Linked DNA regions of Homo sapiens: region 2 is linked to region 1. The links come from fine-mapping of genetic effects on gene expression. Tissue or cell type: whole blood. Region 1 holds a variant in brackets; the other region holds the start of a gene. All regions are shown on one strand. Distances are between the middles of the regions.

Region 1 (8,100 bases):
CTCTGAGCTCCCCAACGGCACCAGCGCCTGCACGGCCTCAGCCCAGGGGGTCATTAGGGAAGCTCTCCCCGATTCTGTGCAGACAGAGCTTCCTCTGTCCACCCTTGCTCGGCCAGAATTGTGTGCCGCTGGTGACTGGCACCCCTCTATTCTAGGGCCAAGGCCTCTCAGGGGTCTACAGATACAACTATGGGTGGGTGCACACCCATGTTATAAACCACACTAAATGCACAAAAACTGTCTGCAAGTTTGGGGTGCGGGGAACAGCTCTGGGTGGGAGGTTGGAAATTTGGTCTGGGGGACCCACTCGGCTCCCTCCCTCAGCCCACAGTGAGTCTGGTTTCTGAGTTGTCCCGGTCTAGCCACTTTCGTTTCCCCTGGGGCCGGGTGGAGGCTGGGGCAGAAAGCGGAACTGAGCCCGCGTGTTCTGAGGCCAGGGCAGGGCTGGAGCGTTCTGAACACCTCCCCGTCCCAGCCCCTGGGCCAGGCAAGGGCCGGCCTTACCTCTCCTGGGTTGGTGGCAGCAGAGCTGGGCTCTGAGGGAGGCCTGCAATGTGAGACAGTAGCAGCTCAGAGGCGGCACTAGGCAGGTGCAACCCCAAAAGGTACTGGGCAGGGAATTTCAGGGGAAACTGAGGCTCCATGCTGCAAGGCCAAAGCAGGCCCAGACACAGGGAGTTCAGCTCGAACGTTTGCTCCTTACTTGCTGACCGACACATTCACTTCTGATGGGCTGTGCTGTGTAATGACCCAGTCCTTTCTGTCTTCCACCCAGGGGTCTCAAGTGAAGGGCCAAGGGCATGGGTAAGGGGAGGAGAGGGACAGAAGGGGACTCAGGACTGTGGAGAGTTTCCGGTTCTGGGCTGGAGAGGGAGTTGGGCAGGTGAAGGGGAGGAGGCAGGGTCCCTCTGGCCTGACTCCAGGGAGGCAGTGAAGCTGTGGCCTGGGAGGCGGGGCTCGTGCCCCTGGGTAGGTAGCAGTTAGAGCTGTGGCTTCTGTTTCCTGTAGCCTTCCTAACAGGCTCCGGCAGGCGTTAGGGCCTTCCTAAGTGCTACCCGAATGCGTGTCCAGTGGGAGGAGAAGGGGGAGGACCAAGAACCTAGATGAATGGCCCTAGAGAGGTAACATCTGTTTGGTGCCTGCTGTCATTGGAGGTGGGTTGAGTTGGTTGATGGGATTTCTCTAAAGATATTGAGAAACTGCTTTCCTCTGAGGGCAGGTGTCCTTGGGAGCTCCAGATGAGATTCTTGTTGAGGGCATCTCCGGAGGGAACTCTCAGGGGATGGAGGGTGAGAAAACTTGGGCAGGGAAGAATCGAACTAGGGGTGTAGACTGAGCAGGAGGCTGTCTTCGGGCTGATCCCACAGAGCGCTCGCTGTCCCAGGTAGCCAGCTTGAGACAAGACAGCCGGGCTTTTGGTGTCAGGCAGTCACTGGCTGTGGGCTGCCCCCCAAGAGCAAGGGGTGGGCCTAACCTGTGGTGTGAGTAGTGGAAGGCGGTTCTCTGGCCAACGGGCTGCTTGCTGCTGTTAGCAGTTGGAGAATGGATGCCTCTGCCCGGTAAAGGGCACCTGGGGCCGCGCCCGCAGCATTCACTAACTCGTAACTCTCCTTCCCTTCCTCCAAACACAAAATTCCATGACACTAGACAAGAAAGCTGATGCTTGGAAAAGAGAATTGGCCTTAAATACCTAGATGGACTGGAGAGACCATCCTTTGTGGTCCATAGCTTGACCTCTGAGTACCCTGTCCCCATCCACCTGCAGACCTGCTGAGGCTCCCCTCTGGCTTTCTCCTGCAGACCCCTCTGCCATGAACCAGTCCATCCCAGTGGCTCCCACCCCACCCCGCCGCGTGCGGCTGAAGCCCTGGCTGGTGGCCCAGGTGAACAGCTGCCAGTACCCAGGGCTTCAATGGGTCAACGGGGAAAAGAAATTATTCTGCATCCCCTGGAGGCATGCCACAAGGCATGGTCCCAGCCAGGACGGAGATAACACCATCTTCAAGGTAAGCCCCGGGGAGGAGGTTGGCTGGACCTCCAGGGCACCCTGTCCCCAGAAGAGGAGCGCACATAACGCACACAGGCAGCTCCTCGAGGCTGGCCACCCGCCCAGCTACCATGCTGCTGCTGATGCCGGGCCCGGACTAAGGGGATGCAGACGTAGACACAGGGTACACCTTTTTCCTTTTTTTTTTTTTTTAAGACAGAGTCTCGCTCTGTAGCCCAGGCTGGAGTGCAGTGGCACGATCTCAGCTCACTGCAACCTCTGCCTCCTGGGTTCAAGCAATTCTCCTGCCTCAGCCTCCTGAGTAGCTGGGATTACAGGCATGAGCCACCACGCCTGGCCTAGGGCACATCTTTTCTAACCTGCACCCTAGAGCATCGTGGGGACTGAGGGTCCCCAGAAGGCCTTCCCATAACTCGTCCTACTCACCCTTTGCTCGTCTCACTCCTATTACTCATGAGGACTTGTTCAGTGCACGCATATGCTAAAGGAAGCCAACGATCATCATCTTTCTAAAAATTTTATTTTTAAATTAGTATATATTTATGGGGTACACAGTGGTGATTTGATAAGCACAGTGATCAGATCAGGTACTTAGCATATCCATAATCTCAAACATTTGTCATTTCTTTGTGTTGGGAACAAACTATTTTTAATATAAGATTCAGATACATCATCAATCTTTCAATTGTTTAAATTTTCTAATTTTTTTTAGAGACAGGGCCTCACACTGTTGACCAGATTCCAATTTTTTTTTTTTTTTTTTTTTTTTTTTTGAGACAGGGTCTCACTCTGTCACCCAGGCTGGAGTGCAGTGGCTTGATCTCAGCTCACTGCAGCCTCGACCTCCCAGGCTCAGGTGAGTCTCCCATCTCAACCTCCTTGAGTAGCTGGGATTACAGGTGCCTGCCACCACAACTGGCTAATTTTTTGTACTTTTAGTAGAGACTTTGCCATGTTGCCCAGGCTGGTCTTGAACTCCTGGACTCAAGCAATCCACCCACCTCAGCCTCCCAGAGTGCTGGGATTACAGGTGTGAGCCACCATGCCCGGCCCAATCTTTTTTTTTAATTGATGTACTACAACTGTACATATATACTCTTTTTTTTTTTTTTTGAGATGAGTTGTTGCTCTGTTGCCTAGTGTTGCACCATTGGTGAGCAGTGGTGCAGTCATAGCACAACCTCCAACTCAGCTCAAGTGATCCTCCAGTCTCAGCTTCCTGAGTAGCCGTGACTACAGGTGCATGCCACCATGCCCAGCTAATTTTTTTTTTTTTTTTTGAGATGGAGTCTTGCTTTTTCACCCTAGCTGGAGTGCAATGGCACAATCTCAGCTCACTGCAACCTCTGCCACCTGGGTTCAAGCAATTCTCCTGCCTCAGCCTCCCGAGTAGCTAGGATTACAGGCACCTGCCACCATGCCCGGCTAATTTTTTTTTTTTTTTTTTTTTTTTTTTTTTTTTTTGTATTTTTGGTAAAGACAGGGTTTCACCCTGTTGGCCAGGCTGGTCTTGAACTCCTGACCTCATGATCCACCTGCCTTGGCCTCCCAAAGTGCTGGGATTACAGGCGTGAGCCACCGTGCCCAGCCTAATTTTTTGATTTTGATATTTGTAAAGATGAGGTCTCACTTTGTTGCCCAGGCTGGTCTCAAGCTCATGGGCTCAAGTGATCCTCCCACCTCAGCCTCCTGAGTAGCTGGTATCACAGGCGCAAGCCACTGTGCTCTCTCCAATAATCTTAATGCTAGGATGTACCTCGCATAATAGTTTTTGCTTACATTTTAGTTTTTTTGCACATGTGTGTATATGGAATGCAAAATTGGAATCAAGTGAATATCTTGATTTATAGCCTGGATTTTTTTCACCCAATATCAGGATCAGCTTTCCTTTCCAACATACGTCCACATCACTTTTCGTGACTGTAGAATTTCCACTGGAATGGTTTAGCACAATTTGGTCACTGAGTCTTGGTTTTTAGATACTTGAGATTGCTTTTAAAACCTGAACTTAAAAACCACATTGTCATGTAGGCTGTCTTAATGCTTCCCTTTTTTTCATCCTCAATTATTTTGGGGGTTGATTTCCTAGAGTTGAAAATTGCTGGGTCAAAGGCAATGCTTATTTTTTAAAACTTTGGGTACATATTTTCTTAGTTTTTGGGCTTGATCCTTACCTTTCCAAAATTCTTTTGCTAATCCATTTATTTTGTATAGGTAATACAGTCACAAAATTCAACATTAAAAGGCATAGAATGGTTTAGAGCAAAAAGTCTCCCTCCTTCCCTGGTTCATCACCACCCACTCCCCTCCCTAGCCTTTCCCTAGAGGCAGCCGTGTTGTCATTTTCTTGTTTAGCCTTCCTGAGAGATTTTTATGCACATGTAAGCAAATATGGAACTATCCTTTCCTCTACTTTTCATAAGAAATGCTAGATATCTGCATATTTGTCTAGACTTAATACTTCTTGACGATTGCTACATGTCAGCTTATAAACAGTTTCCTGCTTTTTCTTTTTTTGTGCTGCCCAGTATTTTTCATTCAATGGGTTGGCCGTAATTTCACCAGCCCCTCATTGATGGATGTTGCATTGGGTATTTTGGGTCATCTTTTACACACAGCACTGCTGCGAATAACTTTGTGTGTGCAATATTTTGTGTGAATGCTTCTATGATATTTAGGATGAATTCCTAGAAATCAAATAGCTGGGTTAAAAGGTAGAAAGAAATGTTGGTAACCCTCACCTCACCTAATTGCCATTCAAAATAATACCA[A/G]CAGCTCCAGTGTCTCGAGCCTGTCCTATGTGCAGGTTTAGCTCTGAGTGCTTTACGGACATCAACTCCCCTCATCTTTTTTGAGATAGGGTATCACTCTGTCGTCCAGGCTGGAGTGCAGAGCATAATCATGGCTCACTGCAGCCTTGAACTCCCCAGCTCAAGCAATCCTCTCACCTCAGCCTCCTGAGTAGCTGGGACCACAGGCACCCACCACTATGCCCAGCTAATTTTTTGTAAAGACAGGAGTCTCGTTATGTTGCCTAGGCTGGACTCCAACTCCTGGGCTCAAGCAGTCCTCCCACCTTGGCCTCCCAAAATGTTGGGATTACAGGTGCGAGCCACTGTGCCCAGCCAACATCAACCCCTTGAGTCTTCGCTGCCACTCCATGAGGTGGGCAACTGTGAGGAGATCAAGACAAAGGGAGGCAGTGACATGGCCTGGCACACAGCTGGCGGGGGGCACTTCCAGATTCAAACCCAGCCTGGCTCCAGGGTGCTCACCCTTATCCCGCACGCTGTCCTCCTTAGAGATCACACTGTTTCACCCTCCCAGGAGCAGGGACTATGGATGCATCTCATAGCCCCTAGATTTCATGTAGCTTGCTGGCAGCCTGAGGGCTGGGGCAGGACTGTGGCAGACTCCCACGCTGCAAACCAGGTCTGGGGCTCAGCGAGGCTCAGCCTGTAGCCGAAGTTCTCCCCACACAGTAGAGTCTCCTATGGGACAGGAGGCAGACTGGGGCTGTGGCAGGGATGAGGTTCTCTGTGGTCGGCTATTTCTTCCTGCCCCAGGCCTGGGCCAAGGAGACAGGGAAATACACCGAAGGCGTGGATGAAGCCGATCCGGCCAAGTGGAAGGCCAACCTGCGCTGTGCCCTTAACAAGAGCCGGGACTTCCGCCTCATCTACGACGGGCCCCGGGACATGCCACCTCAGCCCTACAAGATCTACGAGGTCTGCTCCAATGGCCCTGCTCCCACAGGTATCAGGCCTAGCCCTCTGTGGGCCACCTGGGAGGCTGTGCAATGTCCTGGCCCCCAGCCATGAGCTCTTGGGTGCAGGCAGGCCAAGGGCCCCTCTAGCAGGCAGTGGTCCAGGAAACGATGCGGGGGCTCCCGCTAGGTCATGACACCCAGGGCTTCCAGGAGTGGCTGGGATGGGTCACTGGCATATCAGGAATGGCTTGGCGTGCAGTCAGGGACCTGGGTGCTTCTTCCTTACCATTGCCCTCGTTTTGGCTTCTGGCTCCAGCCTAGGTCTCATGGCCCATGGAGTCGGGGAGGTCTTTCCCAATCCTGGTGGCTGTGCCCTCCACCTCGCCCTGTGTTGGGGGCAGCTTTGGGGAAGGCAGAAGCTGCATAGGAGCTACAGGCAGCCTCTCAGGGGATCTTGCTTCTCCTCCGACATTGACTCCTTTACTGCCCTGCTTTTCTCTCCCTGCTGTGCAGACTCCCAGCCCCCTGAGGATTACTCTTTTGGTGCAGGAGAGGAGGAGGAAGAAGAGGAAGAGGTGAGTGTGGGTTGAGGAGGCAGGTGGAGCCCTGGACGAGCTCTCTGCTGTCCCCATCGGCCTTAGGTTTCCGCAGCCCCACTCCCATGGAGCCCCGTGGCCCTCTCAATAGTTCTCCTTGTTTCTTCTCCTGGGATTCTGAACGATAGGAGCACAGTCCCCACCTGCTCCTTCCCAGGGCATTGTCATTACCCTGTGTGTGTGACCCACGCAGCAGTTGGGGCTTGGTAGGTCTGACTCCCTGCAGAAGGCAAATGAGGAAAGTGAGGCAAAGGGCTTTTCTGACCTGCCTGGGATGGACGAGCTGGGACCGGAGGCAGGGTCTTGCCTGAGCTAAACTGAGGCTAGGGGAGTTGCCTCATAGTTCTCGCCTGTTATTTCCCCAGCCCCAGGTCAGTGGAATAACCTGTCCTCCTTTCTCTCCCATCTCTTCCCTCCCTTGCTGGTGGTGTCCCTTCAGCTGCAGAGGATGTTGCCAAGCCTGAGCCTCACAGGTGGGGCCGGGAGGTGGTGGTTGGGGGTCTAGTATACAGAGAAGCTATAGGTACCATAGGTACCTGGAAGGGGGCTGATGGGAGGCTAGGGTGGCCCAGGGCTGGGAGGAGGTGTGCCTGGGAGGCAGTTCGTGGAGGTGGCACTGACAGCCGTCCACACGCACTCTCTGTAGATGCAGTGCAGTCTGGCCCCCACATGACACCCTATTCTTTACTCAAAGAGGATGTCAAGTGGCCGCCCACTCTGCAGCCGCCCACTCTGCGGCCGCCTACTCTGCAGCCGCCCACTCTGCAGCCGCCCGTGGTGCTGGGTCCCCCTGCTCCAGACCCCAGCCCCCTGGCTCCTCCCCCTGGCAACCCTGCTGGCTTCAGGGAGCTTCTCTCTGAGGTCCTGGAGCCTGGGCCCCTGCCTGCCAGCCTGCCCCCTGCAGGCGAACAGCTCCTGCCAGACCTGCTGATCAGCCCCCACATGCTGCCTCGTAAGGACCCATGGCTGGGCACGGGGAAGCAGTGCTGGGGGATTGGGGTAGGATTGGCAAGGAGGGTGGAGGGTGCTGGACTCCCTTGGGTGGGAAAAGTGGGAGGGCGGATGGGGCTGGGCCTGGCCACTGGGCTGCAGAATGGGGAGGCGTGGGGCTCAAGGACGGGATGGGCCTGCCTTCTGCCCCACAGTGACCGACCTGGAGATCAAGTTTCAGTACCGGGGGCGGCCACCCCGGGCCCTCACCATCAGCAACCCCCATGGCTGCCGGCTCTTCTACAGCCAGCTGGAGGCCACCCAGGAGCAGGTGGAACTCTTCGGCCCCATAAGCCTGGAGCAAGTGCGCTTCCCCAGCCCTGAGGACATCCCCAGTGACAAGCAGCGCTTCTACACGAACCAGCTGCTGGATGTCCTGGACCGCGGGCTCATCCTCCAGCTACAGGGCCAGGACCTTTATGCCATCCGCCTGTGTCAGTGCAAGGTGTTCTGGAGCGGGCCTTGTGCCTCAGCCCATGACTCATGCCCCAACCCCATCCAGCGGGAGGTCAAGACCAAGCTTTTCAGCCTGGAGCATTTTCTCAATGGTGAGGGCCCAAAGCTGTGATCCTCCTGGCTGCCTCTTGCCCAGGGCATGGTTCCAGCCTCTGACTAGGGACCTTGATTTTGATGCAGAGCTCATCCTGTTCCAAAAGGGCCAGACCAACACCCCACCACCCTTCGAGATCTTCTTCTGCTTTGGGGAAGAATGGCCTGACCGCAAACCCCGAGAGAAGAAGCTCATTACTGTACAGGTACATCTCCCCTATCCCAAAGTCGGCCTTGGCTTGAAAACT
Region 2 (8,100 bases), 110 kb after region 1:
TGTTTTTTTTGAAATGGAGTCGCGCTCTGTCGCCCAGGCTGGAGTGCAGTGACACAATATCAGCTCACTGCAACCTCCACCTCCTGGGTTCAAGAGATTCTCCTGCCTCAGCCTCCTGAGTAGCAGAGACTACAGGTGCGCACCACCACGCCCAGCTAATTTTTGTATTTTTAGTAGAAACGGGTTTTCACCATGTTGGCCAGGCTGGTCTCAAACCCCTGACCTCAAGCGATCCGCCCGCCTCAGCCTCCCAAAGTGTTGGGATTACAGGCGTGAGCCACTGCACGCCCAGCCTGGGTGGTGGCTTTTTAGTAAAGACAAGATCCAGGGTGTGATTGTGTGACCAGGTGGCTAAAGAGAATGAAGAGGTAAAGGAATCAGAAGGCCAAAGTGTTAGCTGAACTGTCAATCCAGATGCTGAAGTTGCCTAAACGTGATGTGTTACTGCTGGATATTTTCCAGATCCACTTTTCCACCCTCCTCTATCATGTTTTCTGCTCCAATAGGCTGACCTGTATAGACTTTACCAACAGGTCACTGTGCCCCTGGCTTCCGGTTGGGTTTGGCCAATGGGGAATCCCAGCAAGAAATTAAGAGAACAGGGTCAGGATATTCATTCCTCCAGCTTCATTCTCTCAAGGTCACCTGAAACTAGCTATGTCCCTTCGGCTGAAAGTCACCATTCCTCTCAAGGCAGCCAACTCCATACTTTTCAAGTAACTATTCCCTCTTTTATGGGATGTTAACCGTTCAGCTATAGGTTACCAAACTATTTCTTGTCACACCACTATACCTAAATCTTTATAATAGTATCTTTATAAAATAAACTCAGATTATCCTGTCAAGTGTGCCATCTGTTCCTGTCTGGACTCTGACTATTAACTGTGATGGTGAAGATGATGTAAGGTTGTAATAGAGTATTGGAAAGTAAGGAGAGAAAAGTGACTAATACTTAAATAACAATTGCTAACATTTTAATCTCTATGTTCCAAGAACTTTTCTAACCTCTTCGTAGAATATTAACTCATTTAATCACAACTACCTTCTGTGGTAAGCAGAGATTTTTGTCTGGTTCATTTCCAAATCCAAACACCCAGCATAGTTGCTGGCACATGGTAAGCACTCAAATATTGATTTAAAATACACACAACAAGCAGGTTTAATTAGAAAGAGATTACTTTTTTAGTATAGTGTAGCACTTCTCCTAATTACACTTTAGAAAACTATACAAAGATCAGGGAATTGTTGACTCTCCAGAGATCACAGAAACACTAAATGAGACCATATGTGAATGATTTTCTTGTGTAGCCTACAGTGAGTCGTATTCCTTTATTTTCTGAAGAGGACTTGGGTGCCAGTTTTTTAGGTTTAATATTCAAAGTCAAAGTTGCAGCGGGGGGCGATGGCTCACATCTATAATCCCAGCACTTTGGGAGGCCGAGGCGGGCGGATCACCTGAGGTCGGAGTTAGAGACCAGCCTGGCCAACATGGCGAAACCCCGTTTCTACTAAAAAATACAAAAATTAGCTGGGTGTGGTGGCGTGTGCCTGTAATCCCAGCTACTCAGGAGGCTGAGACAGGAGAATCACTTGAACCTGGGAGGAGGAGGTTGCAGTGTGCCGAGATAGCACCACTGCACTCCTCCAGCCTGGGCAACAGAGCCAGACTCTGTCTCAAGAAAAAAAAAAAAAAATTAGTCGGGTGTCAGGGCAGGCACCTGTAATCCCAGCTACTCGGGAGGCTGAGGCAGGAGAATCTCTTGAACCCGGGAGGAGGAGGTTGCAGTGAGCTGAGATGGGACCACTGCACTCCAGCCTGGGCGACAAAGCGAGACTCTGTCTCAAAAAAAAAAAAAAAAAAAAGGCAAAGTTGCTCCATACCAAGACCAGATTTTTAAAAAGTCAAAGTTGCAAATTTTTAAATATTATGCACTTGCAGCCTAGGAGCTGATTTAATAAGGCAGAGCACCTTTAAGTATCAGTTATGAGTTAAAATAAAGGGAAGGGGGCCAAAAAAAATATGGTTGTGAGTATAAAATGCAAAAATAAAGGTAAAGGTGAGTATTTTGTCAGCCTGTAAAAAAAGCCTCTTTAGTTTTCAAAGTACTTAATTTTTAAAGTACATCCTACATTAGAACCTAAGTCAGCCAGATAACCAAGAATACACATTTACACAGAAATGAAGCACAGCAAAGGTGTGAAAATTAGGGCAGGAAGCATAAAACATGAATCAAAGAATGCAGAAATACAACAGATATAAGCTACAATTAAATATCTCACCGGATGCACACACAGTTTTATATGGAATAATCAAAGCAGCAGTGATACCCATCTTATAAATAAAAATCTAAAAGCCAGAGAAATAACAAGGTTAGAGGATTAATATGAAACAAAATGAGAACTCCAAAGATTTTCTGAAAGCAGAATTACTGTTTTTTCTTCATATTATGTTGCCACTCCAAAGCAAGGGGAAAACTCGCATGAGTAAGAATCTAGAAACCTGAGAAGTTTCGAGAAGAACAGACTCAAACTGGAGTGAAAATAGGCAAAAAGAGTGAGGCATAAGGCTACGACTGGGAGCAAAATGCCAGATGCAAGTCTTGGACACGGAGGGGAGACGAATAAAGCCTTCTTAAGCGGAAGGTGGAGAAACACTGGGGTTGGATTTGGTGGGAGGAAGACAAAACGGAAAAGCACGGCCCAAGAAGCAACGGCAAAGGGAGAACTTAAACAAGATTAGATTGATGCCACAATCGAAGAGTATAAGACCTACAAATCAGATTCTGCCGGGTGGGGAAAGGGCCAGTTCGCGACCGATCAGGTGCGACTAGTTTCCCAAAAGCGGCAAAGATGTAGCTTCGCAGCCCCACCCCACGACAGCAGCTCCTCCCCAAGGAGGACCTCACGAGGTCAACTGCCGGGCTCAGGTTCTCCCCCGGAGCCTAGGTTCCACCCCGCCCCGGCCGTGCGGCACAGAACTGCCTCTCTGGGCCCCTCACCGAACGCTGCAGCTCCCCAAGCCAAAAAGAGGCGCGCTCCTTTCCGCTGGGATCTGGGTCGTGGTAAAGCGCCTGCACTGCCTGGTACACGAGCTGCAATGTCGGCTTTGCTCCTTCCATGGTGGTGGCGGTAGTGGCGGTAGCGACGGCTCTGATTCTTCTCCGGAGGATTCCTCGGTTGCTCCGCCTTCGCGCTTCCTCACTGTCTGGGCCACGGCCGCTCCCTGACTGGCGCCATCTCCTCCTCTTTGGCCGTTACCAGGGCAGAAGGCTCTCCGTGGAAGTTGCCCCCTCGGAAACAGCTATTAGGTCGTATTCAGGTTCCTGGCCTTTTTTCCGGTTTTTCCACTTGATTCTAGACTCTTGAGTCCACAGATTCTGGCGCTCCCGTCTTCAGTCGCTGACTTGCCCTCAGAAGCCTATCTTGGGAGGCCACACACCAGTGTACCTAAGGTTCGTTTACCCGGACCGGAAGCGACAGCACCGATACCTTTGGCACACTTCCGCCTGGTACACTACAAACGGCCTCCTTCCCGGCACGCCTCCTCTTGTCTCCCCGCCCCCTCCCGGAAGTAACCCTGCCGGGCCAGGAGCCGGGAAGAAGAGCCGGTGTTCTCTCTGTTCCTCGCTAGCAGCTTGGGACATTAGCGCCGAGATGTGCCCCATATCTGAGCTGCCTTCAGCTCCTTGGAAACGGATCCAGGTTTTTCCTACCCCTTCCGACTGCCCCATCCCTCTCCAGAGAATCCTTTTCTGCCCTGGTGATCAAGGCGCGTCAATTCAACTCTCCCTAGAGTGGCCACAGTACTGGAGATCCAAAGATGACTTAAGACATGGTACCTACGCTGGCTCTAGTGGAGGAGACAGACACGTAGTCAACTGAACTATTTTACAAACCTGAAATATGTGCCACATTGAGATAAATCCAAAATGCCTAGAATCTTTGTTCAGCTCCCCTTTACTTAGTTCTTAAGCCCAAAAGAGGTCTTCATTCTGCTTACAGCTCCTGGTGCTCTAACTCCAGAGCATTTTGCATACATCTTTAGGGTTATTCTCACATTGAACTGTATTTTTGTGAATGCCTTTCTGTCCGAATCCAATACCAGTGGTCTAACAATTCACAAAAGAAAACAGAAATATTGGAAACTGTACTATGGAGAAATTAGGGACAAAAGGTAACAGTATATTGATATTAACATTGCTGCTAGTCCTTTGCACTAGTAAATAACTGCTATTTGATAAATGATCACAATGTGTAAAACACTGTAGTTACAAGATCTCATTTAATCCGCCTAACAACCTTGCCAAGTATTAATAAAACCCGTTTTAGGCGCTGACACTGACCTACAGCGCCTCAGCTCCAGCGCCATGGCGCCCTCCAGGAAGTTCTTCGTGGGGAGGAACTGGAAGATGAACGGGCGGAAGAAATGTCTGGGGGAGCTCATCGGCACTCAGAACGCGGCCACTGTGCCTGCCGACACCAAGGTGATTTGTGCTCTCGCCACTGCGTATAACGAGTTGGCCCGGCAGAAGCTAGCTCCCAAGATTGCTGTGGCTCCGCAGAACTGCTACAAAGTGACTAATGGGGCCTTTACTGGGGAGATCAGCCCTGGCATGGTCAAAGACTTAGGAGTCACGTGGGTGGTGTGGTCCTGGGGCACTCAGAAGGCGTGTCTTTGGGGAGTCAGATGAGCTGATTGGGCAGAAAAGTGGCCCATGCTCTGGCAGAGAGACTCGGAGTAATCGCCTGCATTGGGGAGAAGCTAGATGAAAGGGAAGCTGGCATCACTGAGAAGGTTGTTTTTGAGCAGACAAAGGTCATCGCAGATAATGTGAAGGACTGGAGCAAGGTCATCTTGGCCTATGATCCCGTGTGGGCCACTGGTACTGGCAAGACTGCAACACCCCAACAGGCCCAGGAGGTACACAAGAAGCTCCGAGGATGGCTTAAGTCCAACATCTCTGATGCAGTGGCTCAGAGCACTGGTATCATTTATGGAGGCTCTGTGACCAAGGCAACCTGCAAGGAGCTGGCCAGCCAGCCTGACGTGGCTGCCTTCCTCATGAGTGGTGTTTCCCTCAAGCCCGAATTCGTAGACATCATCAATGCCAAACAATGAGCCCCATCCGTCTTCCCTACCCTTCCTGCCAACCCAGGAACTAAGCAGCCCAGAAGCTGAGTGACTGCCCCTCCCCTGCACATGCTTCTGATGGTGTCATCTGCACCCTATTGTGGCCTCATCCAAACTGTATCTTCCTTTACTATGTATACCTTCACCGTGTAATGGTCGGGACCAGACCAATCCCTTCTCCACTTACTGTAATTGTTGGAACTAAATGTCACCAATGTGGCTTCTCCTTGGCTGAGAGGTGAAAGGGATGGAATTTGCTCCTGGGTCCCCTAGGCCCTAGTGAGGGGAGGAGAGAGAACCCATCCTCTCCCTTCTTACACTGTGAGGCCAAGCAGAAGCCAGGGGTGCTGCCCTCTCCCACGGTGCCAACGCCTTTGTGTGTTGTGTATGTGAGCCATCCCACATGTGAGGGAAATAAACCCCTGGCACTTAAAAAACAAACAAAAAAACGCATTTTAAAGAAAGAAAAATAGTAATGTAATTTGCCCAAGGATACAGTTCTTAAAGTTAGGATTTGAATCCAGATCAGTGTTGCTCCAAAACCTGTTAAATCACACAATCCCTATCATCTTGTGCATTCGTTTGCTTCTGAATTGTTAGTCAAGGAATTTTTAACTGCCAACAACATGATGAAAACAATGTTACTGCACAGAGTTGATACAATTTTAGACAGAAAAAAGAAACTTGATATTTTGGTTACCTAATCCATTCATTCATTAAAAAAAAATTTAGTGCTGGGCTTGGTGGCTCACAACTGTGTAATCCCGGCATTTTGGGAGGCCGAGGCAAGAGGATTACCTTTGAGGCCAGGAGTTCAAGACCATCCTGGGTAATGAAATGAGACTCCATCTCTACAAAAAAAAATGCAAAAAAATTAGCAGGGCATGGTGGTGGGTGCTTCTAATCCCAGCTACTCAGGAGGCTGAGGTGGGAGTATTGCTTTAGCCCAGGAGGTGGGGGTTGCAGTGAGCAGAGATTGTGCCACTGCACTCCAGCCTGGGAAACAGTGAGACCATATCTCAAAACAAATTTTTTTGTGTGTATCAAAGGACACTATCAAGAAAGTGAAGTAACAGTCCACAACATGGAAGGGAATGTGCAAATAACATATCTGATAACTGATTAGTATCCAGAGTATATAAAGAACTCTTACAATTCAACAATGAAAAGACAACTCAGTTTTTGGGTTTGTTTTGTGTGTGTGTGTGTGTGTGTGTGTGTTTTGTTTTTTTGTTTTGAGTTGGAGTCTTGCTCTGTTGCCCAGGCTAGAGTACAATGGCACAATCTCAGCTCACTGAAACCTCCACCTCCTGGGTTCAAGCGATTCTTGTACCTCATCCTCCCACGTAGTTGGGATTACAGGTGCCCACAACCATGCCTGGCTGATTTTTGTATTTTTAGTAGAAACAGGGCTTCACCACGTTGGCCAGGTTGGTCTCGAACTCCTGACCTCAAGTGATCCACCCGCCTCAGCCTTTCAAAGTGCTGGAATTACAGGCGTAAGCCACCATGTCTGGCCTCAGATAATTCAGTTTTTTAAATGGGCAGTGAATTTGAATAGACATTTCTTCCAAGAAGATATACAAATGCACATGAAAAGATGCTCATCATTAGCCCTCAGGGAAATACAAATCAAAACTGCAATGAGATACAACTTCACACCCACTAGAAAAACTAAAATTTAAAAAATGATAAATGCTGGTGAGAATGTGGACAAATCAGAACTCTCATGCACTATTCATGGGATTGTATCATGGTGCGGCCATGTTGAAAAAGTTTGGCAGCTCTTCAAAAAAATGTTAAACATAGAATTATCATATGAACCAGCAGTTCTACACTTAGGTATATACTCAAGAGAAATGATAACGTGTGTGCATACAAGCACTTGCACGTGCATATTCATAGCAGCATTATTCATAATAGACGGCAGAAACAGCCCCAATATCCGTCATTTGATGCATGGATAAACAAAGTGTGCTATATCCATACAATGAAAGGTTATTTGACCCTTAAAAGGAATGAAGTACAGATAGATGCTACAATATAGATAAACTTGAAAAATTATGCTAAGTGAAAGTGGCCAGACACAAAAGGCACATTAATTACGCGATTCTATTTACATAAAATGTTCAGAGTAGGCAAAATTCTAAATATAGACAGTAGATTGGTCATTTCCAGGGTTGGTTTTTTGTTTTGGGTTTTGTTTTTTTTTGTATTGATGGAAATAAATGCTCTGGAATTATTGACGATGTTCAGAAAAACCTCATGAATATATTAAAAACCACTGGCATATGTTTTTTATATGTTTTAAAAGGATGAGTTTTATGGCAATGTGAACTATATTTCAATAAAACTTATTTTTAAAAGTTCTATGGTTAGGAATTATTAAAACACCACATGGATATTTAGCTAACAGTTGGAGAAAAAAGAAAAAAAAATAGAGGTGATACCTAACCCAGAGTAGAGAGATTGGTAACACCATCTGGAGAAATTATGTCTAAACTGAGACCAGACTGATAGATAAATAGGAAGCAATTAGGCAAAGGGTTTAGTATTGTAGGCAGAGGCAACAGTATGAAAGCCTGGAGGCAAGGGAAAAAATTACCTTCTGAAGACTGAAAGTAGCTGAAGGATAGAGTTGACATTGGGTAGGAGTAAGAAATGAAGCTAAACAGTGTTTAACCCATCTTTGTGACCTCATGCCATTACCTGATACATAGTGGGTGCTTAGCAAATGTCTTAAGTGACATGTTTCTTTGTTCCTTAGTCTTAAAAAAAAAAAAAGTCTAGTTTGACATGAAATGGCTTGGGCAGGGAAGGTGGCTAGAACAGAAATAAGAAAAGATTGTAATAATCGTGGTGAGGAGTGATGGTAGCCTGGAGTAAAGTGTTGGCGGTGGGCATGGAGATAGAGAGGTATTTAGGAACTTCAGAGGAAGAATCTTGATATGGTGATTACTTAAGCTGCA

The links. PIP is the estimated chance that this variant, and not a neighbour inherited with it, causes the effect.
Region 2: it holds the start of TNPO3, and the variant in region 1 is fine-mapped to the expression of TNPO3 in whole blood (TOPMed, PIP above 0.99).

What each region holds. Positions count from the first base shown.
Region 1 is chr7:128,940,271-128,948,370 of GRCh38, forward strand. IRF5 (interferon regulatory factor 5) reads left to right here. Exons shown (of 9, transcript NM_001098629.3): 2 at 1,801-2,006; 3 at 5,575-5,764; 4 at 6,231-6,292; 5 at 6,753-6,786; 6 at 6,960-7,265; 7 at 7,459-7,851; 8 at 7,940-8,058. The coding sequence starts at 1,812. Among named protein-coding and RNA genes, the nearest start is that of IRF5, 6.4 kb to the left of the region's middle. RefSeq lists enhancers at 124-353, 464-513. The variant A/G (reference allele first, on the strand shown) is at 4,780.
Region 2 is chr7:129,051,652-129,059,751 of GRCh38, forward strand. It overlaps TNPO3 (transportin 3), which reads right to left and starts at 3,460. Exons shown (of 23, transcript NM_012470.4): 1 at 3,000-3,460. The coding sequence starts at 3,119. It also overlaps the pseudogene TPI1P2. RefSeq lists enhancers at 2,993-3,492, 4,304-4,598 and a silencer at 4,304-4,598.